Linked DNA regions of Homo sapiens: region 1 is linked to region 2. A link means that fine-mapping ties the variant in region 2 to the expression of a gene that starts in the linked region. Tissue or cell type: whole blood. Region 2 holds a variant in brackets; the other region holds the start of a gene. All regions are shown on one strand. Distances are from middle to middle. Region 1 holds the start of GTF2E2 (general transcription factor IIE subunit 2). Region 2 overlaps GTF2E2 (general transcription factor IIE subunit 2).

Region 1 (12,538 bases), 72 kb before region 2:
TTGGCCAGGCTGGTCTCAAACTCCCGACCTCAGGTGATCCATCTGCCTCGGCCTCCCAAAGTGCTGGGATTACAGGCGTGAGCCACCGCACCCAGCCAATCCATGCAGTTTTAGCATTGATCCATCTCATAGTGGGCTCAGTGGATCCCTGAACCCATCCTGTGGTTATTTCTGCAGCTCAGGAATGCGTAATCAGAATAGACATGCTCAGCAGCTGGCAGAATCTCCAGTGCTTCCCTGGCCTGTGGAGTGAGGGCTATTATGGTGGCAAAGGCCAAGTGGAAGCCACAAGAACTGCCTCTACCTAGAAAAATAGAAAATGAAAAGCGATACCACATCCCTGGAGGGACTGCAGAGATTAGTGCCACCATCAAGGACGTCATTCCCCTAGGTAAAGAGCCATGTGACCAGTTATAGAAATGAGGACTGTAATTGCCATGATTGTGTGTGTGTGTGTGTATAAATTATCTTTGTTTTCTTCCCTCTCTTTTTCCTGTATCATATAACCTAAGATGTATTGACTTGATATTGTAGTATTTAAGAATTGTTTAAAAAGTTATGAGGTTTCCCAAAAGAAAAACAAAGCATTACATCGAAAAGATACTTACACTCATTATGTTTATCACCGCACTATACACAAAAACAAGGATATGGAATCAACCTAAGTATCCATCAGTGGGTGACTGGATAAAGAAAATGTGGTAGGCTACGAGTGGTGGCTCATGCCTGTAATCCCAACCCTTTGGGAGGCCGAGGTGGACAGATCACAAGGTCGGGAGATCGAGGCAATCCTGGCCAACATGGTGAAACCCCATCTCTACTAAAATACAAAAAATTAGCCGGGCATGGTGGTGCACACTTGTAGTCCTGGCTATTGGGGAGGCTGAGGCAGAGGAACCACTTGAACCTGAGAGGCGGAGATTGCAGCGAGCCGAGATCACGCCACTGCACTGCAGCCTGGTGATGGAGCAAGACTCCGTCTCAAAAAAAAAAAAAAAAAAAAGAAGAAGAAAGAAAATGTGTGTGTGTGTATTAGAATACTATTCAGCCATAAAAAAAATGAAATCATGTCTTTTGCAGCAACATGGATGGAACCGAAGGCTATTATCTTAAGTGAAACAACCCAGAAAGTCAAATGCCATGTGTTCTTATCTATAAATGGGATCTAAATAATGTGTCCACATGGACATGGAGTGTGTAGAGTGTGAAAGAACAGGCATTGAAACTTGAATGGGTGGGAGGGTGGGAGGGCAATGAGGGATGAGAGATTGCCTAATAGGTGCAATGTACACTGTTTGGGTGATGCTTACCCAAAAGCCCAGACTTCCCCGCTATGCAAAATATCCATGTGACAAAACTGTATTTGTACCCCTTACTTTTTTTTTTTGAGACGGAGTCTTGCTCTGTCGCCCAGGATGGAGTGCAGTGGCGCGATCTCGGCTCACTGCAAGCTCCGCCTCCGGGGTTCACGCCATTCTCCTGCCTTAGCCTCCTGAGTAGCTGGGACTACAGGTGCCCGCCACCACACCTGGCTAATTTCTTGTATTTTTAGTAGAGACGGGGTTTCACCGTGTTAGCCAGGATGGTCTCGATCTCCTGACCTTGTCATCCGCCCACCTCAGCCTCCCCAAAGTGCTGGGACTACAGGCATGAGCCACCGCGCCCGGCCGTACCCCTCAAATTTATACAAGTAAAAAAAAGTTATGGCATATCAAAGAGAAAACATGACGCAAGGACTTTACCTTCTCTTCTGGGAAAGGGGTTAGTGTGTTTTTGTTTGTATGCAGGATAGTGGTATCATGGTAGGTGGAATTATGACCGTGTTATTGTCTTTATTTGGTTATTAAGTATGGTTTAAGGAGATGTGTCTGGGTGCCAAGTTGCCATGGTTAAGTTTACTTGTCAACTTGACTGAGCCACAGGGTTCCCAGACAGTTGGTCAAGCAGTATTCTTGGTGTGTCTGTGCGGGTGTTTCTGGATGAAATGAACATTTATTTATTTAATTTATTTTTTGAGACTCAGTTTCACTCTGTCACCCAGGCTGGAGTGCAGTGGTGCAATCTCGGCTCACTGCAACCTCTGCCTCCTGGGTTCAAGTGATTCTCCTGCCTCAGCCACCCGAGCAGCTGGGAGTATAGGTACCCGCCACCACAGCCAGCTAATTTTTGCATTATTAGTAGAGATGGGGTTTCACCATGTTGACCAGGCTGATCTCAAACTCCTGACCTCAGGTGATCCACCCGCCTCAGCCTCCCAAAGTGCTGAGATTACAGGTGTGAGCTACTGCAACTGGCCAAAATGAACATTTAAACTGGCAGATGTATCAAGCAGATTCCCCTCCCTAATGTGGCAAGGCCCCATCCAATCAGTTGAATGCCTGAATGGGACAGAAAAGCCGACCCTCCCGTGAATAAGAGGAATGCTCCTCCTGCATGACTGTCTAGAGCTAGGATAGCAGTTTATTTTCTGCCTTTGAACTAGAACTGAAACAGTGGCTCTTCCTGTTTTGAGCCTGCATGGCTTTGAACTGGAAGGACATCTTCAGTCATCTGTGCCTCCAAGTTGGCTGCACATCTTGGGACTTGTCAGCCTCCATAATGACATGAGAAATCCCTCTCTGGCTGGGCGCAGTGGCTCACGCCTGTAATTGCAGCACTTTGGGAGGCCAAGGCAGGCAGATCACTTGAGGTCAGGAGTTCAAGACCAGCCTGGCCAACATGGTGAAACCCCGTCTCTACTAAAAATACAAAAATTAGCCAGGTGTGGTAGTGCGCACCTGTAATTCCAGCTACTCAGGAGGCTGAGACAGGAGAATTGCTTGAACCTGTGAGGTGGAGGTTGCAGAGAGCTGAGAACGTGCTATTGCACTCCAGTCTGGGTGACAGAGTGAGACTGTGTCTTAAATGATAAATAAATACATCCCTCTCTAACTCTGTCTCTATTTCTTTTTTTTCCTCTCTCGGTCTCTCTCTCCTTCTGTCTACACACACGCACACACACATATCCTATTTGCTATTTCTCTGGAAAACTCTAATACACTGATGTAGCAAAAATCATGAAATACATAAATGTTATGAGAAATTATTTTCTTTATTATGATAATTATTATGGAAGTTGATCATAAACACCTAGTATTGCATGCTAAGATATGACGGTTATCAAAGAGAAAACTTGAAAGAAAGTTTGAATTATGGAACGACTTCTTATTTGTTTCTGCAAGGTAAGAAGCTAGTTTGGTCCCAACTTTTTAAAGATGTGAGTTCACTCTTTGCTCACTCATGTGTTCGAGGTAGGCTACTCCCTCCCCATCTCCAGAAAGGTGAATCAAAATTTGTTTCAGGTTGTCACGGTAGTTTCTTTCCCTTTCATGGGGATTGATTGGTTTAGATGAGGTATGTGACTCCATCCTGGCCAATAACTACCTGGGGAAAGTCTACATATGTGTGTGTGTGTGTGTGTGTGTGTGTGAGAGAGAGAGAGAGAGTGTGTGTGTGTGTGTGCAGTGATGGGGTTTGGCTCTCTGTTAGAGGTTTTTTGCTTTCTTTTTTGAGATGGAGTCTTGCTCTGTCACCCAGGCTGGAGTGTAGGGGCACGATCTCGGCTCACTGCAACCTCTGACTCCCCGGTTCAAGTGATTCTCCTGCCTCACCCTCCTGAGTAGCTGGGATTACAGGTGCCCGCCACCACACACTAATTTTTGTATTTTTTAGTAGAGACGGAGTTTCACCATGTTGGCCAGCCTGGTCTTGAACTCCTGACCTCAAGTGATCCGCCTGCCTCGGCCTCCCAAAGTGCTGGGATTACAGGCATGAGCCACCACGGCCGGCCAGAGGTACTTTCAATTTTTCATCTGCCAGGCAGAAAAATGGGGGTGAGGGGTTGCAAAGGGAGCAGCCTCTGGTCCTTTTGTTACTTGGGTGTGGAAAATTAGGGTTTTCCTTTTGATTTAGCTCTTTCTAGGGAGTCAGCGTGAATTGGCCTTAGGTTCTCTGCTTCCAGACCCTATTCTCCTGCCTCAGAATGAATGAAGCCATTGCTTTCAGTGTTAAGACCTAGACACATGCAACAGGCAGTATAAGCAGGAGTTTGTAATGTAATAAGGTTTCCTGGGGTTTGTATGAGAGGGTTTCAATGATATTAATAACAAGAGCTAACTTCTGGGTAAAGGGGACACAATTGAGATTTGAGAGTCTGGATTATAGATAGTACATTCTGATATTATTAGTAGCTTAGCTGTTTCAACTGGCTGAAATGAGTCAAGATATTGACATGAAATTACTCACTGTAAGCGTTTATTGAGCACCTTCTTTGTGAAAGATTTAATTCTGTAAAGATTCTCTAATTGTTAGATTTCTAAGTCTCAAGGGAAGAGATAGTGAATATGTGTCAAAGTTTTATTTAACGCAAGAAATGTAGACCTGCCAAGTGAGAACAGAGACTATTCAGAGCTTGCTATAGCAATAGGGGCAGCGACCACACTTGAGTTTGGCAGAGACTCAAAAGCAATCGGGAAGAGGGGAGACTTTACAGTGGAGGAAAAAAGGGATGCTTCTGATGTGTTCTGATTTAGGGATGTTGGCAGGGGAAGCTGGAAGTTGTCTAACTTGAAGCAGGAAACTTAACAGGATTGGTTTGGGAAGAATATTTGGCTTTCTCTGGCTGATACTGGTGTCTGAGGACAGAGAGGTTAAAATAGAAAAGTTGGCAGCCTTCTTGAGAAAATTCTGACCATTTTGAGCTGATTGCTGTAGAGGTTATGGTTTGGCTTATGTGAGTTAGAGTGTTATTATCATATGCGGTTTAGCCATTGTCCATATGTATAAGTCTCTCACTCATTAATAAGGGAGCCAGCAGAATCATAAAACGGATTTCTACCAGTTCTGAAAAATGATATTTATATAATCGTTGGGGAAAGGAATGCTGAAATAAAACTGCTCAGTTGATACAAAACCGGTTAATTTTTCTCAGAAAAATGCAACCTTAACCTTTGGAATTTTATCTATCTATCTATCTATCTATCTATCTATCTATCTATCTATCTATCTATATACACACTGAATTCCCTGCCCCTTTTTCCCCTAACACCTCATCAGTTTCCTACCAATTGATGTTTGATTTCATCCTTTTGTAAATCTTCTGGGCCCTAATCAATTGTTATTCAAACAAAGTTACATTTCCTGTGGGTGTCAGATGATCAAGTAGGCTTATTACAAAATTCTCTAGAATGAAACTAATAAAAGTCACAAAATATTATCTTTTGACTTTTTTCCAAGTTTTGAATAAAATTTTAGGTATTTTCTCACTTAATTTTCACCACAGTCCAATGCAAGTAACTCATTGTAGTAGTACAATGATTATCCCCATTTCCCCGATGAGAAAACTGAGCCACAGTTTCAGTAACTTGAAGAGTAACCAGTAATTCAACGACAGCCACAGAATGGCTGAGCACTGGCTGTACTGCCGCTTTAGGTTATAAGAGTGAGGGAAGGCCTGCCACGCTGCAGGTTTCGGGCAATGAAATTATTTTTTCCACTGCTTTATTTCCACCCATTTATCTGGCTTCTAAATCCAAAATCCTTTTCTAAGACAGTTCACAGGGGTGGAGGGAAGAGGCTGGGCTGTGCTCCACATCAGGCTGCCTTTGCTAGCTGTGTTGTCTTGAGCAAGTCATTTATTAATTAGCTTCCTGGCCCTCTGTTCTTCGCTTGTAAAAGAGCTGGAACCGCGTTCTCGGTGTGCAGGTGCTGGTGTGTGGCGCTGGGGTAAACTCACAAAATAACCGTTGAGGCCGGGCGCGGTGGCTCACGCCTGTAATCCCAGCACTTTGGGAAGACGAGGCGGGCAAATCGCTTGAATTCAGGAGTTCGAGACCAGCCTGGGCAACATTGTGAGACCCTATTAATACAAACAACAACAACAATAATAACCAAAAATAGTCCGTCGTGGTGGCACTCGCCTGTGATCCCAGCTACTCCGGAGGCTGAGGTGGGAGAATGGCTTGAGCCCAGGAGCGGAGGTTGCAGTGAGCCGAGATCGCGCCACTGCCCTCCAGCCTGGGTGACCGAGTGAGATCACGTCTCTAATAAGAAAAAGACAAAAAACACAAAGTAACCATTGAAAGATAGCGTCGTCGGCTGGGTTCACCACATCCCAGCGCACGCCGGAGCAGGCTGTAGCAGTTTTAATAAAGTGTCTATAAAGAAAGCTGCCTTCCATCTTCAGTGGCGCCGCCTCCCACTTCAGTCCCCTTCTCGGCCCCACCCCAGCCCTTCCCTCGTTGTCATGGAGGCCCCAGGACGCCAGAGCGGGATAGTTCCGCTCCCGCGGCACCAGAGGCGGGGCACGCAATGACGCATGCGCTCGCTTGGCTGCCCTGGCGCCGCGGTGGCTGCCGGGACTGAGCTCCTAGCACCCGATCGGGAAGTGGCGGGCGGAGTCCCGGGTCCAGTCGCCGCCTCAGCTACCGCCGCTGCCGCCGCCGCCGCCGCCACCGCCAGTGGTGAGACCCCGACCTGGCGGGTCAGCGCTGGGCGTGCGTGCGGGCAGGCGGGGGCGCTGACGAGAAGCAGGAAGAGGGTGCAGTGCCGGCGTGGGCGGCCGGCCGAGGCGGAGGCGCAGGAAGGGGGCGGCGAGTCGTGCGAGGCTGCCCTTCTCACTCAGGTAGGGGCTGCGGCCGCCGGGTGTGGGGCGCAGAGCCCCGGCTTGCTGTTCCCTGGGACGCAGGCGCGCCGCCGCCTCCCGGGAGGCTGAGCGTGACCTCCACCTCACGGGAAGCTGGGACCGCCGTTCTCGAAGCGAAACACCCAGCACGCGAACCGTTCCCCGGAGCATTGTCTTTAGGCCAGAGGTTCATTGAGCAAACTTTTGGGTTGGAAAGAGGGAAAATTCGCGGTCTGCCGCCTGACTGTGCCTCTTCCAAGCCTCCAAGTTCACGGGCGCGGTAGCCAAGCGAACCGTGTGTGGAGTTTGAGCAGCCGCGGGGTCCAGCCAGCTCAAGACTGTGATTTAAAATGATGCTCATACGCGGACTGCTTTCTAGGCTACCTTTTGGAGATTTGGTTTGTGATGATCCCTAAACTTTAACGATAGTAGTTGATTTCTGCAGTCTAAACAACGCTGCGGCCCCCTTTTCGCCCACCTCCCCACTTCCGTCATTTAAGGGCGAAGCAGCCTGCTTTTCATAGCCGGGTCCTGAGGTGCCAGGGACACTAACGAGGCTGGGTAAAAGTGAAAGAGAGGGGAAGTAGTAAGGTTGAAAGAGGTCGAATGGTGGCAAGAATCGTGGGCTTGGAGGCAGATTTCAGTTTAATTTTTGGGTTTTCCGTGTCTGCCCACGGAGGAACCAGCCAACTCCTTGAGTTGTGGTTTTGTTTAATTGTAAAATGGACATGGTGATGTAGCCTGTTTACTCCATAGGGGGGTCCAGAGATCTAAAACTTAGTACACATATTGGGTAGTCTTTGAAAAAGGAGGAAAAGTTAGGCGGAGCACGTGATGGTGAAAGACAGACATTGCGAAGCTTTCTGCTCTAGATGCCTTTGAACGTTCCCGAACCTCACAGGTGGCCTTTGTTTTAAAGGCCTTTACCAGCGTTCCAGGTCTGGTGTAAGGAGCACTTGAGTTAGGAGTCAGGAGGTTTGGTTCCTGGCCCTGGCTCTTCCATCTGTGCGACCTTAACCAGACAGCTTCACTTCAGATTTCACGTATTAAAATAGGAATAACACTAATACCTGTTTGCTCCTAGAGTTGCGAGGGTCAAATACTGTAAGCATTTAGTTTGTTGTAAACTGTACGGCTTTATTTACTTTTTTTTTTTTTTTTTTCTGAGACGGAGTCTCGCACTGTCGCCCGGGCTGGAGTGCAGTGGCGCGATCTTGGCTTACTGCAAGCTCCACGTCCCTGGTTCAAGCGATTCTCCTGCCTCAGCCTCCCAAGTAGTTGGGATTACAGGCACCCGCAACGACACCCTGCACATTTTTTAAATTTTTAATGGAGACGGAGTTTCACCATGTTGGCCAGACTCGTCTAGAACTCCTGACCTCGTGATCCGCCCTCCTCGGCCTCCCAAAGTGCTGGGATTACAGGCGTGAGCCGCTGCGCCCGGCCTATTTAAATCTTTTAGAGTAATTTTTTTAAAGTCCAGATTGAGGTCCTGCCTTTGCAACGTGAAATAAGACACAAATGTTTCCTGTTCTAGAAATTTACTTTTTGCTCCCACCTTCTCACTTGACAATTCTCCTTTCTTCTTCTTGGCCCCACGCTTTCCCTCCTCCCAAGGCTGTCTCCTACTTTCCTCAGCCCGGTAAATCATTCCCTTCTTTCAGATCCAACTCAAAATAGTAATACTGAAATAACACGTTTTTATGACTTTACTGTTTAAAAAATAACATACACATTTTCTCATTCTTACAATTGGGCTGGATGTGGACAGCTTTCATAGCGTCCTCATTTCACTTATGAAATTGAATGTAGAGGCCTTGTGGGTTGCCTAGCCAGGTGGCTTTAGGAATTGAAACTGAGGCCGGGTGCGGTGACTCACGCCTGTAATCTAAGCACTTTGGGAGGCTGAGGTGGGCGGATCACTTGAGGTCAGGAGTTCAAGATCAGCTTGGCCAACATGGTGAATGAACCCCGTCTCTACTAAAAATACAGACATTGGCGGGGCGTGGTGCTGCGCGCCTGTAGTCCCAGCTACTCGGGAGGCTGAGCCAGGAGAATCGCTTGAGCCCAGGAGGCGGAGGTTGCATTGAGCCGAGATTGCACCACTGCACTCTGCCAGCCTGGGCGGCAGAGCGAGACTCTGTCTCAAAAAAAAAGAAAAAAAAATTGAAACTGAGAGAAGGCAGGTTTTTGATTCACCGTCCAGTGATTGTTCACGCCTTAATTGAAATTCAGTCTGATTATTTCTTATCAATGCTTATATTTAAAATTTTTAGCTCAATGCTTCCATTTTCTCAAATCTAAGCAGCATGTAGACAAGGATTTATCTTCCGTAACCTTTCAAAGCTTAGAGCACAGTGCCTCACAAACAAGATATTTAATAAAGGCTTGTGAAACCAGTAATAATGGGACCAGAGCAATTTAAAGATGATGTTCCATGTGTTGTTCATTTAACAAATATTTATTGAGCTATCTGTGCTTAAAAGCTTTCAAAGTATGAGTCTTTTTCCTCCCAGCTGACACTAGTCTTAACAGTGTCAAATTCATTTATATAGTCAGCTTGAGGTCTTCATAGACCCTCTGTAGGGTTCTAGCAGAGTTCAGAAGAGAGGTGTGTTTAGAATTCTTGTTGGTTGACCTGTAGCTTCCCTGGTTGTAGTGAAATTGCTTTGAGTTGTAATTTTAGAACTAGACAAACAACAACCACAACATAGAAGTTGCCTCAAACCACCTCCCTCCAAATTGGAAATTTTCTGTAGACTTTTTTTTTTTTTTTGAGACAGAGTTTTGCTGTATCCCCCAGGCTGGAGGGCAGTGGCGGGATCTCAGCTTACTGCAACCTCTGCTGGACTCAAACAGTTCTCGTGTCTCAGCGTTCTGAGTAGCCCGGACTACACGTATGTGTCACTATGACTGGCTAATTTCGTAGAGATAGGGTTTCACTATGTTGCCCAGGCTGGTCTCTCAGCCTCCCAAAGTGCTGGGATTACAGACATGAGCCACTGTGCCCGGCTCTCTGTAGACATTTCTAACAAATAGTATAATAATTCAGCCTCTTCATCACTTAATAATTGAGAGTTCACCAGTTGTAAAAATATGCCATTTTATGTATAAGCAGTTCTGATGGTTCTCTTTTTTTGCAGTGAGCCTAAATCCACCTTCTTCTAATTTCTGCCCTGTAGTCCTCATGTTTCTACAGCAGTGTTGTCCAATAGAAATATAATGGGAGTGGGAAGTGTGAGCCACACGTGTAATTAAAAATATTCTAGGCTGGGTGCAGTGGCTCATGTTTGTAATCCTAGTGCTTTGGGAGACTGAGGTAGGAGGATTGCTTGAGGCCAGGAGTTCAAGACCAGCCTGGGCAACATAGCAAGACCTTGTCTCTAAAAAGTTTTTAAAAAAATTAACTGTGTGTGGTGGCGTGTACCTGTAGTACTAGCTAGTCAGGAGGCTGAGGTGGGAGGATTGCTTGAGCCCAGGAGTTCAAGGCTACATTGAGCTATGATCACACCACTGTACTCCAGCCTGGGCAACACAGTGAGACACTGTCTCTTAATTTTTTTTTAATAGCCATATTTTAAAAGAAAAATTGGTGAAATTAATTTTAACATTTTATTTAACCCAGTATATTCAAAATAGTATCACTTCAACATGTAATTAATGTAAAATATCTCGTTAGTAATTAAATAGTTTTTTTCTTTATACTAAATCTTTGAAATCTTGTGGGTTTTTACACTTGAAAGTCCATCTCAATTTTAACTAGCCACATTTCACATGTTTAATAGGCACATGTGGCTAGTGGCTAATATATTGGACAGCACAGTTCTGGAACTTTAGGGAATAATTCTGTTTCTTTTCTTTCTTTCTTTTTTTTTTTTTTTTTTGAACAAGGGTCTTGGTCTGTCACCCAGGCTAGAGTGCAGTGGCATTATCACAGCTCACTGCAGCCTTGACCTTCCAGGCTGAAGTGATCCTCCCACTTCCGCCTCCCGAGTAGCTGGGACTGTAAGCACACATCACCATGCCTGCCTGATTTTTTGTATTTTTGTAGACAGGAGGTATTACCATGTTGTCCAGGCTGGTCTCCAACTCCTGGGCTCAGGCAGTCTGCCCACCTCGGCTTCCCAAAGTGCTTCAGCCACTATGCCTGGCCTCTTTTTTTCCTATAATGGCTAGTACAGTGCTTGGCGTGTAATAAGCGCTAATGAAATATTTCTTGAGTACTTGAATAAGTGAATAAATGCAAGTGCTAGAGAACTAATAATAAAAGGTAATTTTGTTTGGGAAGTAACTTGTTGAGATCTGTGGATTTGGAGTGCAGGTTTGAGTGACTTGAATTTGTATTAAAGACACTTATTTTTTCTTTGTAGCATTATGGATCCAAGCCTGTTGAGAGAAAGGGAGCTGTTCAAAAAACGAGCTCTTTCTACTCCTGTAGTAGAAAAACGTTCAGCATCTTCTGAGTCATCATCATCATCGTCAAAGAAGAAGAAAACAAAGGTAGAACATGGAGGATCGTCAGGCTCTAAACAAAATTCTGGTTAGTAAAATTGTTTAGGACTGTTTGGTTTTTATTCAGATTATTCAGGAGGAAACCGTTTAGTTATGGCTAGTTCATTTTTCAGTTCAGCACTCATGTTGATAGGCACTTTGTTGAATATAAAGGATGGGACAAGAGAATTTAAGCTCTTAGGATGTTAATAGTCTTGTGCTGTAGTTAAAATTTAGGTTATTACCTCTTTAAAAAAACTTTATTTAGGTTTAATTTACATACCATACAGTTCATTCATTTTAAGTTTACAGTTCAAAGATGTTTGGTAAATTTACAGAATTTTGCAGCTGTTATTACAGTCCAATTTTAGAACATTTCCATCACCCCCAGCAGATCTGATGTGCCCATTTGCAGTGACTTTTCCCATCCCTGCCCCGGAAAACCAATAATCTGCTTTCTGGCTCTGTATATTTGCCTTTTCTGGATATTTCCTATAAATGAAATTGTACAGTAAGTGGTCTTTTGTGTGTTGTTTTTTTCACTTGGCATATTTTTGAGTTCCATCCATGTAGTATGCATCAGTACTTCATTCCATTTTTATTGGTAAAGCGTATTCCATAGTATGGATATATGTACCACAGTTTGTTTATCCATTCACCAATAAACGGTTATTTGGATTATTTTCACTTTTTGGCTGTTTTGAATAGTGTTGGTATGAATATTCATGTACAAGTCTTTGTGTAGACATATCTTTTTATCTCTTTTGGATAGAGACCTAGAAGTAGATTTCTGGGTCATATGTCAAATTTATATTTAACTTGTTAAGAAACTGCTAAAATAGCTGTACCATTTTATATTTCCTCCAGCAATGTATCAGGGTTCTAGTTTTTTCTCATCCTTGCTAACGCTTGAAATTCTGTTTTTTTTTTTTTAATCATAGCTATTTCTATAGTTGTGAAGTTCTATCATTGTGGCTTTAATACGCATTTCCTTAATGAGTAATGATGTTGAACATTGTTTCATGTGCTTATTGACCATGTGTATTCCTTGGTGAAATGTCTATTCAATTTTTTTTTGCCCATAAAAAAAACTGAGGTATATTTCCTCTCTCTATTGATTTAATAATTCTTCATATATTCTGGCTACCATTCTTTGATCTGGTATACATTTGCAAATATTTTCTCCAAGCAAGTGCTTGTCATTTTATCTTCTTAATAGTGTCTTTGTATGTACAAAAGTTTTTAATTTTGATGAAGTCCACCTTACCAGTTTTTTTCTTTTATCATTTGTATTCTTGGTGTCATATCTAAGAAATCTTTGCCTGACACAGGTCATGAAAATTTTTTTCTGTGTTTTCCTCTAAGAGTTTTGTAGTTTTAGCTCCT
Region 2 (12,538 bases):
CCTCCATGTCTTTTGGTTCTGCATCTGTGGATTCAACCAACTATAGACTGAAAATATTTGGAAAAAAATTTTGTCTTTATTAAACACATACAGACGTTTTCCTTGTCATTATTCCCTAAACAATACAGTATAACTATTTACATGGTGTTTAAATTGTACCAGGCATTGTAAGTAATCCAGAGATTATTTAAAGTGCATGGGAGGATAGGCATAGGTTATATGTAGATACTATACCATTTGATATCAGAGACTTGAGCATCTGTAGATTTTGGTATCTGTATGAGTCCTGGAACCAATCCCCCATGGATACCAAAGGCTGACTATACGTGAACGATGTGTGTGAGCCGTAATGGAATTAGGCTAGAAATCAATAACAGAGCTAGTAGCTATATTTGGAGACTGTCCATTTGGAAATTATTTTATTTATGTATTTTTTGAGACAGAGTCTCACTGTATAGGCTGGAGTGCAGTGGCATGATCACAGCTCACTGCAGCCTTGACCTCCCTGGGCACAGGCGATCCTCCTATCTCAGCCTCCCCAGTAGCTAGGACTACAGGTGTGTGTCACCATGCCTGGCTAATGTTTGTATTTTTTTGTAGAGATGGGATTTTGCAGTGTTGCCCAGTCTGGTCTTGAACCCCTAGGCTCAAGTGATCTGCCTACCTCAGCTTCCCAGAGTGCTAGGATTACAGATGTGAGCCACCACACCCAGCCTGAAATTAAATACCTTTAAGTAACCTATGGTTCAAGGAGGAAATCACAGGGAGGTAAAAACATTGTTGCATTAAATGAAAGTGAAAGCACAGTGTATCAAAATTCATGGGATGCAGCTATAGCAGTGCTTATAGGGAAATAAAGAGCATTAAGTGCTTATAGTAAAAAAAAAAATTCTATTGTATGGCCATACACTTTTCATGTATCAGTTGATGGATATTTGGGTTTTTCCACTTTTTGGCTGTTGTGAATAATACTGCTATTAACATACCTATACAAGTTTTTGTGTGGACATGTGTTTTCATTTCTCTTAGGTATATACCTAGGAGTAGAATTGCTACATCATATGGTAGTTCTGTGGTTAACTTTTTGAGGAATTGTCATACTATTTTGCAAAGCAGCTACATTAATTTACATTCTCACCAGCAACTTAGGAAGGTTCTGCTTTCCCCACACCCTTGCCAACACTGATTTTAGCCATTCTGGTGGATGTGAAGTGTTACTGTGATTTTGATTTGCATTTCCCTAATGACTAATGATGTTGAACATCTTTTTATGTGCTGATTGGCCATTTTATATTTTATTTTATTTTTATTTTATTTTTTTACTGTAGAAACAGGGTCTCACTCTGTTTCCTGGGCTTGAGTGCAGTGATGCTATCATAACTCATTGCAGCCTCAAGCTCTTAGGGTCATGCAATCCTCCCTTCTCAGCCTCCTGAGTAGCTAGGGCAACAGGTGTGCCACGGTACCTGGGTAATATTTTAATTTTTTATAGAGGCAGGGTCTTACTCTGTTGCCCAGGCTGACCTTGAACTCCTGGCCTCAAGTAATCCTCCTGCCGTGGCCTTTCAAAGTGCTGGAATTATAGGTGTGAACCACCACATCCGGTCCATCTGTATATTTCATTTGGCAAAATGTGTATTGAAATCCTTTGTCCATTTAAAAAATTGTTTTGTGCTTTTATTACAGAGCTGTAAGAATTCTTTATTCTGGATACAAGGCCATTGTGAGATACATGCTTTACAGATATTTTTTTCCATTCTGTGGGTTGTCTTTTCACTTTCTTGATGGTGTCTTATGAGGTATAAAAGTTTTTAATTTTGGGCCAGGCGCAGTGGCTCACACCTGTAATCCCAGCACTTTGAGAGGCCGAGGCAGGTGGATCATCCGAGGTTAGGAGTTCGAGACCAGCTTGGCCAACATGGCAAAACCCTGTCTCTACTAAAAATACAAAAATCAGCTGGGCATGGTGGTCCCCATCTGTAATCCCAGCTACTCGGGAGGCTGAGGCAGGAGGATCACTTGAACCTGGGAGGGTGAGGTTGTAGTGAGCTGAGATTGCGCCACTGCACTCCAGCCTGGGTGACAGAGTGCAACTCTGTCTCAAAAAAAAAAAAAAGTTTTTGATTTCAATCAAGTCCTTTATCTTTATTTCTTTTGCTGCTTGTGCTTTTGGTGTCATGTCTAAACCATTGCCTAATCCAAGGTCATGAAGATTTACCTCTGTTTTTTCCTCTAGGAGTTAGGGGTTTTTCCTCTAGGAGTTAGAGTTTTTGTTTATGGTGTGAGACGTGGGTCCAGTGTCCTTTAGAAAGCTAAATAGTAGGTATAGATCTCTACATTGTAATATATACTACTGTATAACCCAGCCATCCCACTCTTGGGTGTTAACCCAAATTCACATTAAATTAATGGGTATTTATACTGGCTTTCTTCATAACCACCAACAATTGGAAACAACTCACATCCTTTAACTGTCCCTTAACTTCCCCTTAACTGTGGCACATACTTAGAGTGGAATACAACTCAGCAATGAAAAGGAACAAAGGACTGACATTCCAACAACATGGATGAATCTCAGAGGCATCGTGCCTCATGAGGGAAGCCAGATTCGAAAGGGACATGCTGTGTGATTTTATTTATATGTTTATGATATTCCTGGGAAACAGAACCATAGAAACAGATCAGGGGCTGCCCGTGGAGAGAGTGACTGCAGAGGAGCATAGGGTGATTTGCGGTTGTGGAACTGTCTATATCATTATCATGGTGGTGTTAGCATGACCATATGCTTGTCAAAACTTCAGGAATTGTACAGTAAAATGTGCAGGATTTTAATTTTCATAAATTATACCTTAGTAAAATAAAAGGACAATTTAAAGTAGTTGTTCAAAAGAATATGGTGTTTCTCCCATTGTAAAGCAGTTTTCAAGGTAAAGAGTTACCCCACGGCTTCTCCCCTTCTTGTTTTGGTGTCTGGTGTTTATCCCGAGTAAAAAGTGCAATTGCTCAGTGTAGATTTCAGCAGGATCACCAAGAACAGCAAGTGCTGCCAAGTTCTTCTCATTCTGTCCAGCCTCTGCTGCACAGATTTGGGCAGACGATGCCTGTTCTTTACAGATGTCCAGATAGCAGGTCATACTGTGGTAGTGACAGAATTCTCAAGAAATACTTGTTGAAATGTTGAGGATGAAGTGGCACTTGTCTTTATAATCCTGCCTGCTTAAGTTATACTTAAAATTTATTTTTTATTTTTAAGACAGCGTCTTGCTCTGTTGCTCAGGCTGGAATGTAATGGCACAGTCATAGGTCACTGCAGCCTTGAACTCCCCTGGACTCAAGCCATCCTCCCACCTCAGTCTCTTAGCTGGGACTACAGGCATATGCCTCCATGTCTGGCCAATTTATTATTTTAAAAATTTTGGTAGAGATGGAGGTCTCGCTTTTGCCCAGACTGGTCTTGAACTTCTGGCTTCAAGTGATCCTCCCACCTTGGCCTCCCAAAGTACTGGGATTACAGGTGTGAGTCATTGCACCATGCCAATACTTTTTTCTTTTTTTTGAGGTGGAGTCTCGCTTTGTCAGCAGGCTTGAGTGCAGTAGTGCGATCTTGGTTACTGCAACCTCTGCTTCCTGGATTCAAGTGATTCTCCTGCCTCAGCCTCCTGAGTAGCTGTGATTACAGGCGTGTGCCACCACGCCCGGATAATTTTTTTTTTGCATTTTTAGTAGAGATGGGGTTTCACCATGTTGGTCAGGCTGGTCTCAAACTCCTGACCTCGTGATCCGCCTCCCTCAGCCTCCAAAAGTGCTGGGATTACAGGCGTGAGCCACTGTGCCCGGCCAGGCCAGTACTTTTTTAAAAAGAAAATTTTCAAGCAGTGTGTATTAGTTTCCTGTTGCTGCTGTAAGATGTTACTACAAACTTCATGGCTTAAAACAACACAAACGTATTATCTTACTGTTCTGGAGGTCAGAAGTCTTAAATGGGTAAAAAGGGCTGCACTTCTGGATACTCATGGGAAGAATTCGTTTTCTTGCCTTTTCAGCTTCCAGAGGCTACCCGAATTTCTTGGCTTGTGTCCCAGCATCACTCTGACCTCTGCTTCCACCTTGACTCAGGCTCTCTTGCCTGCCTCTTTCCTTTATAAGGACCCTTGTGATTACATTAGGTCTGCTCAAATAATCCAGGATAACCTGCCTTTCAAGATTCCTTTTTCTTTGGACCAACACCTCCTCATTCCCCTTCTCCTAGCCTCTAGTAGCCATCATTCTACTCTCTGCTTCTGTTGAGTTCTGATTGTTTTAGATTCCACGTAGAGGTGAAAACATGCGGTTTTTGTCATTCGGTGCCTGGCTTATTTCATTTAACAATGTCCTCCAGGTTTATTCATGTTGCAAATGACAGAATTCCTTTCTTTTTTAAGGCTAATAGAATTCCATTGTGTGTATATATATTATATTTTTGTTATCCGTTCATCTGTTGATAGACACTTAGACTGAGTCTTTATCTCGACTGTTGTAAGTAATGCTGCAGTGAACATGGGAGTGCAAGCATCTCCTCAACATACTAAGTTCAAGTCCTTAGAATAAATATCCAGAAGTGGGATTGCTGGATCAAATGATAATCTAGTTATTAGTTTTCTGGGGGGACTCCATACAGTTTTCCATAATGGCTACACCAATTTACATTTCCACCAACAGTGTACAGGTGTTCCCTCTGCTACATCCTCATCAGTGCATGTTATCTTTCCTCTTTTTGAGGATAACCATTCTCACAGGTGTGAAGTGATGGCTCATTGTACTTCTCTTTCTCCTTTTTCCTTTAAGTCTCTGCCCCAGTTGGAAATCATTGTGGTTTTGATTTGTATTTCCCTAATGATTAGCAATGATGAGCAATATATCTGTTGGTCATTTGTGTGGTTTTTTTTTTTTTTTTTTTTTTAAGACGGAGTCTTGCTCTGTTGCCCAGGCTGGAGTGCAGTGGTGCGGTCTTGGCTCATTGCAACCTCCGTATCTTGGGTTCAAGCAATTCTCCTGCCTCAGCCTCCCAAGTAGCTGGAATTACAGGTGCCCGCCACCATGCCCAGCTGAGTTTGTATTTTTAGTAGAGATGGGGTTTTGCCATGGTGGCCAGGCTGGTCTCGAACTCCTGACCTTAGGTGATCCACATGCCTTGGCCTCCCAAAGTGCTGGGATTATAGGCATGAGCCACTGTGCCTGGCCTCATTTGTATATCTTCTTTTGAGAAATGTCTGAATATTTCTGACATTTCAGGATTTCTGAATTTTCAGACAATATTCAGATCTTTTGCCAATTTTTAAATCAGGTTATTTTTTTTTTTTTGCTATTATTTTGAGTTCCATATATATGGAAAATATATATAATTTTTTTTTCTTTTTTAGAGGCAGCGTCTCATTTTGTTGCCCAGATTGTAATGCAGCGGCATGATCTCAGCTAACTGCAGCCTCCACCTCCCAGGCTGAAGTGATCCTGTCATCTTAGCCTCCTAAGTAGCTGGGACTGCAGATATGTACTGCCAAACTTGGCTAATCTTAAAACATTTTTTGTAGAGACGAGGTCTCACTATATTGCCCAGGCTGGTCTCAAACTCCTAGGCTCAAGCAATCTTCCTGCCTCGCCCTCCCAAAGTGCTGGGATTATAGGCATGAGTTGTGGCACCTGCCCTATATTTTGTATATTAAACCCATATTAGATGTATTGCTTGCAAATATATTCTCCCAGTTTGTAGGTTGTCTCTTCAGTCTGTTTACTTTGCCATGCTGCAGCTTTTTGGTTTGTTGTAATCCCAGTTGTCTATGTTTGCTTTTGTTGCCTGAACTTTTGGGGTCAAATCCAAAAAATGATTGCCCTGACCAGTGTTGTGTTGTTTTCCCTGTGTTTTCTTGTAGTATTTTCACAGGTTCAGGTCTTATGTTTAAGTCTTCAATCCATTTTGAGTTGATTTTTCTATATGGTGTGAGACAGTGGCCTCATTTCATTCTCCTGCATGTGGATATTCAGTTTTCCCGACACCCTTTATTGAAGAGACTGTCCTTTTCCCATTGTGTGTTCTTGGCACCTTTGTCAAAGATCAG[C/T]GGATTGTAAATGCATGGGTTCATTACTGGGCTTTTGTTTATGCCAGTCCCATGCTGTTTTGATTACCGTAGCATTGTAATATAGTTTGAAGTAGTGTGGTACCTCTAGTTTTGTTTGTTTCGCTCAAGATTGCCTTGGCTATTCAGTTTTTTTGTGTGTTTCCATTAGACTTTTAGAATTATTTTTTCTATTTATGTGAAAAATGACATTGGAATTTTTATAGGGATTGCATTGAATCTGTGGATCACTTTGGATAGTATGGACATTTTAACAGTATTAATTCTTCCAATTCAGAATCCAAATCTTGAGATCTCCTCATCTCAAGATTCTTAGTCACCAAAGTCTCTTTTATGGTAACGTATTCACAGGTTCTGGGGATTACGTTGTGGACATCTTGGGTGGGGGTGCATTTTTCTGTGTAGCACACAAGAAATTATTTTGATAGGTCTCAAATGTAAGATCACTAGAAGATGAGGTAAATTGAGAAATGTCCTATTTTCTGGAACTGCAAAGTGGATATAATGACACTTTTGAGGATAAAAAGTCACGTTAATAACACGTGTTGTTAAAGGAAAAGGGAGGAAGGCATGGCGTGTTGCTCGTTGAGATTCTGCATTTGGTTTTGTTGTTGTTGTTGTTTTAGAGACAGGGTCTCTCTTTGTCTCCCAGGCTGGAGTGCAGTGGCACAATTGTAGCTCACAACGTCAAACTGGGTTCAAGCTCTCTTCCCACCTCAGTCTCCTGAGTAGCTGGGACTACAAGTGAACACCACCATGCCCGGCTTGTTTTTTAAATTTTTGAGATGGTGTCTCTATATATTGCCCAGGCTGGCCTTGAGCTCCTGGGTTCAAGCAGTCCTCCCACCTCCATCTCCCTAAGCTCTGGAATTACAGGCATGAGCCACTGGGCCTGGCCTTTTTTTTTTTTTTTTTTTTTTTTTTTTTTAAAGGGCAAAGATGTACCTTAATGCTAACACTAGAACACCATAGCCTAATGTGGGGCTGAGAAAAAGTGGCAAGTGCGTGAATTATTAGTAAGTATGATCCTCCTTATTTTTAGGTTATTTCTTTAAAATTTTACACTAGCAATACACAAATATTTCTGCATATTATTAATAAAACCTTTGTCAAGTCTGCAGAACAAAAAAATGAAAATTCTCTAAGCAAACTGTATTCTTTTCTCTGGGGATACCTATTGGTGTGTATTTTCCACATCTTTACGATGTATTTAATATGTATGTGTTTTTGCTTTTTAAGAAATTTTTAGAAGTTTTGTTTCTTCTGCTTTACATAAATGAGATCACTTTGTGTCTAGTAGCTGATCCTCTTCTTAAATGTTTTATATTGCCTTTATTAAAGACACCAGCACACAGAAAATTATGATGGGTGTTAGATGGTGATGATAACAGTAATAGGTGTAGATAATGCTGTTTCATTTGCAGGCATTATTTTCGGTGCTTTATTAACTCCTCTAATCCTCACTATTCTATGAGGCAGGTATTATTATTACTATTATCGTTATTATTATTATTGAGACGGAGTTTCGCTCTTGTTGCCCAGGCTGGAGTGCAATGGCGTGATCTCGGCTCACCGCAACCTCTGCCTTCCGGACTCAAGCGATTCTCCTTCCTCAGCCTCCCAAGTAGCTGGGACTACAGGCATGTGCCACCACGCCTGGCTAATTTTGTATTTTTAATAGAGATGGGGTTTCTCCATGTTGGTCAGGCTGGTCTCGAACTCCCGACCTCAGGTGATCCGCCTGCCTTGGCCTCCTAAAGTGCTTGGATTACAGAGCCACCACGCTCGGCGAGGCAGGTATTATTATTATCCTCACTTTACAGATGAAGAAATGGAGGCAGAAAAATTAAGATGTTTGCACCACTTTGTGCAGGAAATGTGGTAACTGAGGTCACAGCCAGGCCATCTGGCTCTGAGGCCTGCACCACACTGTTGTGCTACTTTTGCATTTACGGGAAAGGGCTAAGCACAGACAAAATGTGAGTGCGTTATTTGGGAATTTTAAGCAAAGCCTCATTGGTAAGTTGGCTCATTTTCTTCCCTTCTATGGCAGTTACACAGTTTTTTATTCTTAACTCATGTGGGACAAGGAAGGGTCTTTTGAAATGAAAGGATCAAATCTGAGCTTTTAAATTCTAGTCTGTTTTCTCCTCTTTTCTGCTAAGAGAGTAGATTTCTAAATCAGTTCTGATTTTATTTACCCTTACGGTTTAGAGTGTGCCTGACTTTCATGATACTTGGCTGTCTTCTGCCATAATAAAGTGTCTGCCTTTAAATTTGATGTCCCTTGATCATTTTGTTTTCAAAAAAGAGATTGCTATTTTTAAAAACCCAAAATATGTAGATCTTGGTTTTTAAATACCATTCTATAATAAAACAAGTCAGGAATCCTTGAAGAAATCATTGATTCCAAATGAGGGGAAATACAAGATGAGCCTGGAACATCTTTTAGTACCGCCAGAAAGTGAGAGAAAGAAGAAAAACTGGAGGAAAAAAAAAAAAAGGGAAGCAAGTCAGGGACATAGGAACCAACATGAAGGAAATCTTAGTGATTAGAGCTGGGATGTTTGAACCACAAAATAAATACTGATCGTCGGCTGGGCACGGTGGCTCACGCCTGTAATCCCAGCACTTTGGGAGGCTGAGGCGGGCAGATCACAAGATCAGGAGATCGAGACCATCCTGGATAACACGGTGAAACCCTGTCTCTACTAAAAAATACAAAAAGTTAACTGGGCGTGGTGGCTGGCGCCTGTAGTCCCAGCTACTCGGGAGGCTGAGACAGGAGAATGGCGTGAACCCGGGAGGTGGAGCTTGCAGTGAGCCGAGATCGCACCACTGCACTCCAGCCTGGGTGACAGTGCGAGACTCCATCTCAAAATAAATAAAATAAATAAATAAAATAAATAAATAAATAAATACTGATCGTCATGGATTATCTGTGTAATAAATATGTAGATATAAATCTGTACAGTAATATCCATGAGTCTGCTAAATTAAATAATTGAAAAACAAGTTGGAGGTTGGGCACAGTGGCTCAGGCTGGTAATCCCAGTACTTTGGGAGGCCAAGGCAGGTGGATCGCTTGAGTCTAGACGTTCGAGACCAGCCTTGGCAACATGATGAAACCCTGTCTCTACTAAAAATACAAAAGTTAGCCTGGTGTGGTGGTATGTGCCTGTAGTCCCAGCCACTTGGGAGGCTGAGGGAGGAAGATTGATTGAGCCCAGGAAGTTGAGGCTTCAGTGAGCCAAGATTGTGCCACTGCACTCCAGCCTAGGTGACAAAGTGAGACCCTGTCTCAACAAACAAACAGTGAACTGAAGGAAGAGCAGCTCTTTGTGTTTTTTGTTATGTTTTGTTTTTTGAGATGGAGTCTCGCTGTGTTACCCAGGCTGGAGTACAGTGGCACAGTCTCAGCTCACTGCACCCTCCGCCTCCCAGGTTCAAGTGATTTTCCTGCCTCAGCCTTCTGAGTAGCTGGGATTACAGGTACCCACTGCCATGCCCAGCTAATTTTTGTATTTTTAGTAGAGACACAGTTTCACCATGTTGGCCAGGCTGGTCTTGAACTCCTGACCTTGAATGATCCACCCTCCTCGGCCTCCCAAAGTGCTGGGATTACAGGCATGAGCCACCGTGCCCAGCCTATTATAGTAGAATTCTAATTAGTACATATGGAAGGAATGATGGAAATAATTTGTCAGTAGTTACTTACAAGTAGTCATTTTTGTAGGTAAGCACTACCAATGGATGCTATTATAAAATTAGTGATAATATGAGAAACGGTATTTATATAGTCTGAAAATATCTCTCCATTAATTATTAACTACAAAGGAAAAACTGATAGCTTCATGACAGAGAAACCTGAGAGATAACACCTTGCCTGATGGTCAGCGTTTACCGGGTCCATGTTGACACTATGTAGCTTGCTACTGTGCCCCAAGAAGGGCACAAGCTCGTTACTGTGTTGTTCTTGCCAGAATTGCATAACCTCAATCTAGTAATGAGGAAATACTAGACAAACCCAAATGGAAGTTTCTGTAAAACAACTGACCAGTGGGGAAACAAAGACTGGCCACACTTAGAGAATGGAGGAGACCAAAGAGATGTGACAGGCAGGATCCTGGGCCAAGAAAAGAGCATCGGTGAAGTTGAAGTTTCACTTCAAACTTGTGAAGTTTCAGTAAGGCCTGTTGATGAATTAATAGTAATATGTCCATGTTAGTTTCAATAATTATACAGTTATGTAAGGTGTTAACATTAGGGGAAGCTGGATAAAGGGCATATAGGAACTCTGTGTACTCATTTTGTAACCCTTTTGTTAGTGTAAAATTATTTTTTAAAAGTCTAAAAAATGTAAAAAGAAAAATATAGGCCAGACATGGTGGCTCGACACCTGTAATCCCAGCACTTCGGGAGGCCAAGGCAGATGGATTGCCTGAGCTCAGGAGTTTGAGCCCAGCCTAGGCAACATGGTAAAACCTCATCTCTACACAACCCCCCACCCCCCCAGAAACAACTTAGCTGGGCATGGTGGTGTGTACCTTGGTCCCAGCTCCTCAGGAGGCTGAGGTGGGAGGATTGCTTAAGCCCAGGAGGTGGAGGTTACAGTGAGCTGAGATTGCGCCACTGCTTTCCAGTTTGGGCAACAGAACTAGACCCTGTCTCAAAAATAAATAAATTTTAAAAAAAGAAAACAGTCTGTCTTGTCTAGGGTGTAGTAGACAATGATGGTATTTCATACATTCGGTAGTCAAATCGTTGAAGTCTTGTCTAGGCTGTAGTAGACAGTGATGGTGTTTCATACATTCAGTAGTCAAATCACTGAGGACCTGTCATGTGCTAGGTACAGTGCCGACTGTCATGGAAACGAGATGGAAATACGCCGACTATCATGGAAACAAGATGGAAATAGAGCTCCCTGCTCTCAAGGAGCTTAGAGAGGCCGAGACAATCATGCACACAGTTGTTATCAGTTAGGTCATGTCCATAATGTGTGCAGATGAACGTTCAGTGGGTGTGTAGTAGAAAGAACCCCTAATGTATCTATGGAAATTAAAAAATCTTATTTAGAGACATTTTGGATTTAAATAACTTTATGCTCAGGTTGAATTCTTTGTAGTAGATTTTGCCACTTTTGCCATTGGTCACCTGCAATGAAAAGCTTCAGGGTAGGTGGCAGTAAACCGATTTCCATGGTATCACCAGAGTCCTGCCTATGTGGGCATCATTTGCTTTATGCAGCGTGTACTGAAATGAGAGAGAAAGGGGGAAGGAAGGAAAAGGGGAAAAGGAAAGAAATCTGGCCTAGCACAGTATCAGATGCCTACTTCATTTATCATTTGTAAACGGACCGTGGGAAGTTCTTGGCTCTGGAAGAAAAGGAGGGCGGCGCTGGGTGAGGGTCTGGGGTGGGAAGAAAGGAAGGGAAGGTGCATCCCCTCAGTGCGTGGGGCAGTTGTGAGTGTGAGGCTCTGTGAAGCCTCGGGGCTCAGAGAGCTTTTCCTTTTTTCGTTCCTGAGCGTGTAAGTCTTAGGATTTTGTGTCTGAAAGTAGCTTCTGATAATTAAGTGAAACCAGTGATCAGAACCTGTCTTCAGGAGCAGAATGTAAGATGTAAATAATGTTCATTTGGAATGCTTCCCAATTGTGGTCTCTCTTGGTTGCAAAAATAGTGATGTGGCAGAGGGACTACAGGTTTCTGAAGACAAGCTGCAGGCAGGACTGTCGCCTTTCTCCTTGTATTACAGAGAGGAGGTGAGACAGTGTTTCTATTTCAGCCATCCCCCCTTTCCCTTTCATGCCTCCTTAGTCACCAGTTACCAGGTTATTTGATTTCAAAAGTCTTTTTTGCAGATAAATTGTTGAATAACCTCATTTCCATGTGAAACTTCGGTTCCCGTCTCCCTACACGTTTCTTATTTTCTATTATCAATGAGAGAGGAATGAGTATATCATGCTTAGGGGAGCTGAGCAGGAAATAAGCTGTTAGCCCTAAATAGAGGAATTAAAGGAGGGTGTTGACGGCCCAGGAAAGCAGGGCGGCTTCATTGTGGCAGCCCTCATTTGCTGGCCTCAAGAAACAGCCCCACTGTCGGGGCTGTGTGGGTGCAGTTCTGTCTCCAGGCCTTTCCCTGCACCGTGTCCCACATGTGGATGTTCTGCCCTGACTTGTTTCATGATGACATATCAGATGTGCTCATTTGGATCCAGAGGAGATAACACTGAAACCTGGATTTTGATCAAGATGCTATAGTTTGTAAAAATGGATTGTAAAATAACTAGTGTCTGTTTGATACAGAATTTCAGAAACTGTGGAGGAGTGTCACTGTAGATTCCATGGACGAGGAGAAAATTGAAGAATATCTGAAGCGACAGGGTATTTCTTCCATGCAGGAATCTGGACCAAAGAAAGTGGTGCGTAA

What was found.
Region 1: it holds the start of GTF2E2, and the variant in region 2 is fine-mapped to the expression of GTF2E2 in whole blood (INTERVAL, PIP above 0.99).

Annotation. Positions count from the first base shown.
Region 1 is chr8:30,652,096-30,664,633 of GRCh38, reverse strand. It overlaps GTF2E2 (general transcription factor IIE subunit 2), which reads left to right and starts at 6,398. Exons shown (of 8, transcript NM_002095.6): 1 at 6,398-6,661; 2 at 11,032-11,201. The coding sequence starts at 11,036. RefSeq lists enhancers at 5,855-6,526, 7,198-7,869 and silencers at 6,304-6,713, 6,724-6,813.
Region 2 is chr8:30,580,273-30,592,810 of GRCh38, reverse strand. It overlaps GTF2E2 (general transcription factor IIE subunit 2), which reads left to right. Exons shown (of 8, transcript NM_002095.6): 7 at 12,415-12,530. Among named protein-coding and RNA genes, the nearest start is that of SMIM18, 52 kb to the left of the region's middle. The variant C/T (reference allele first, on the strand shown) is at 6,093.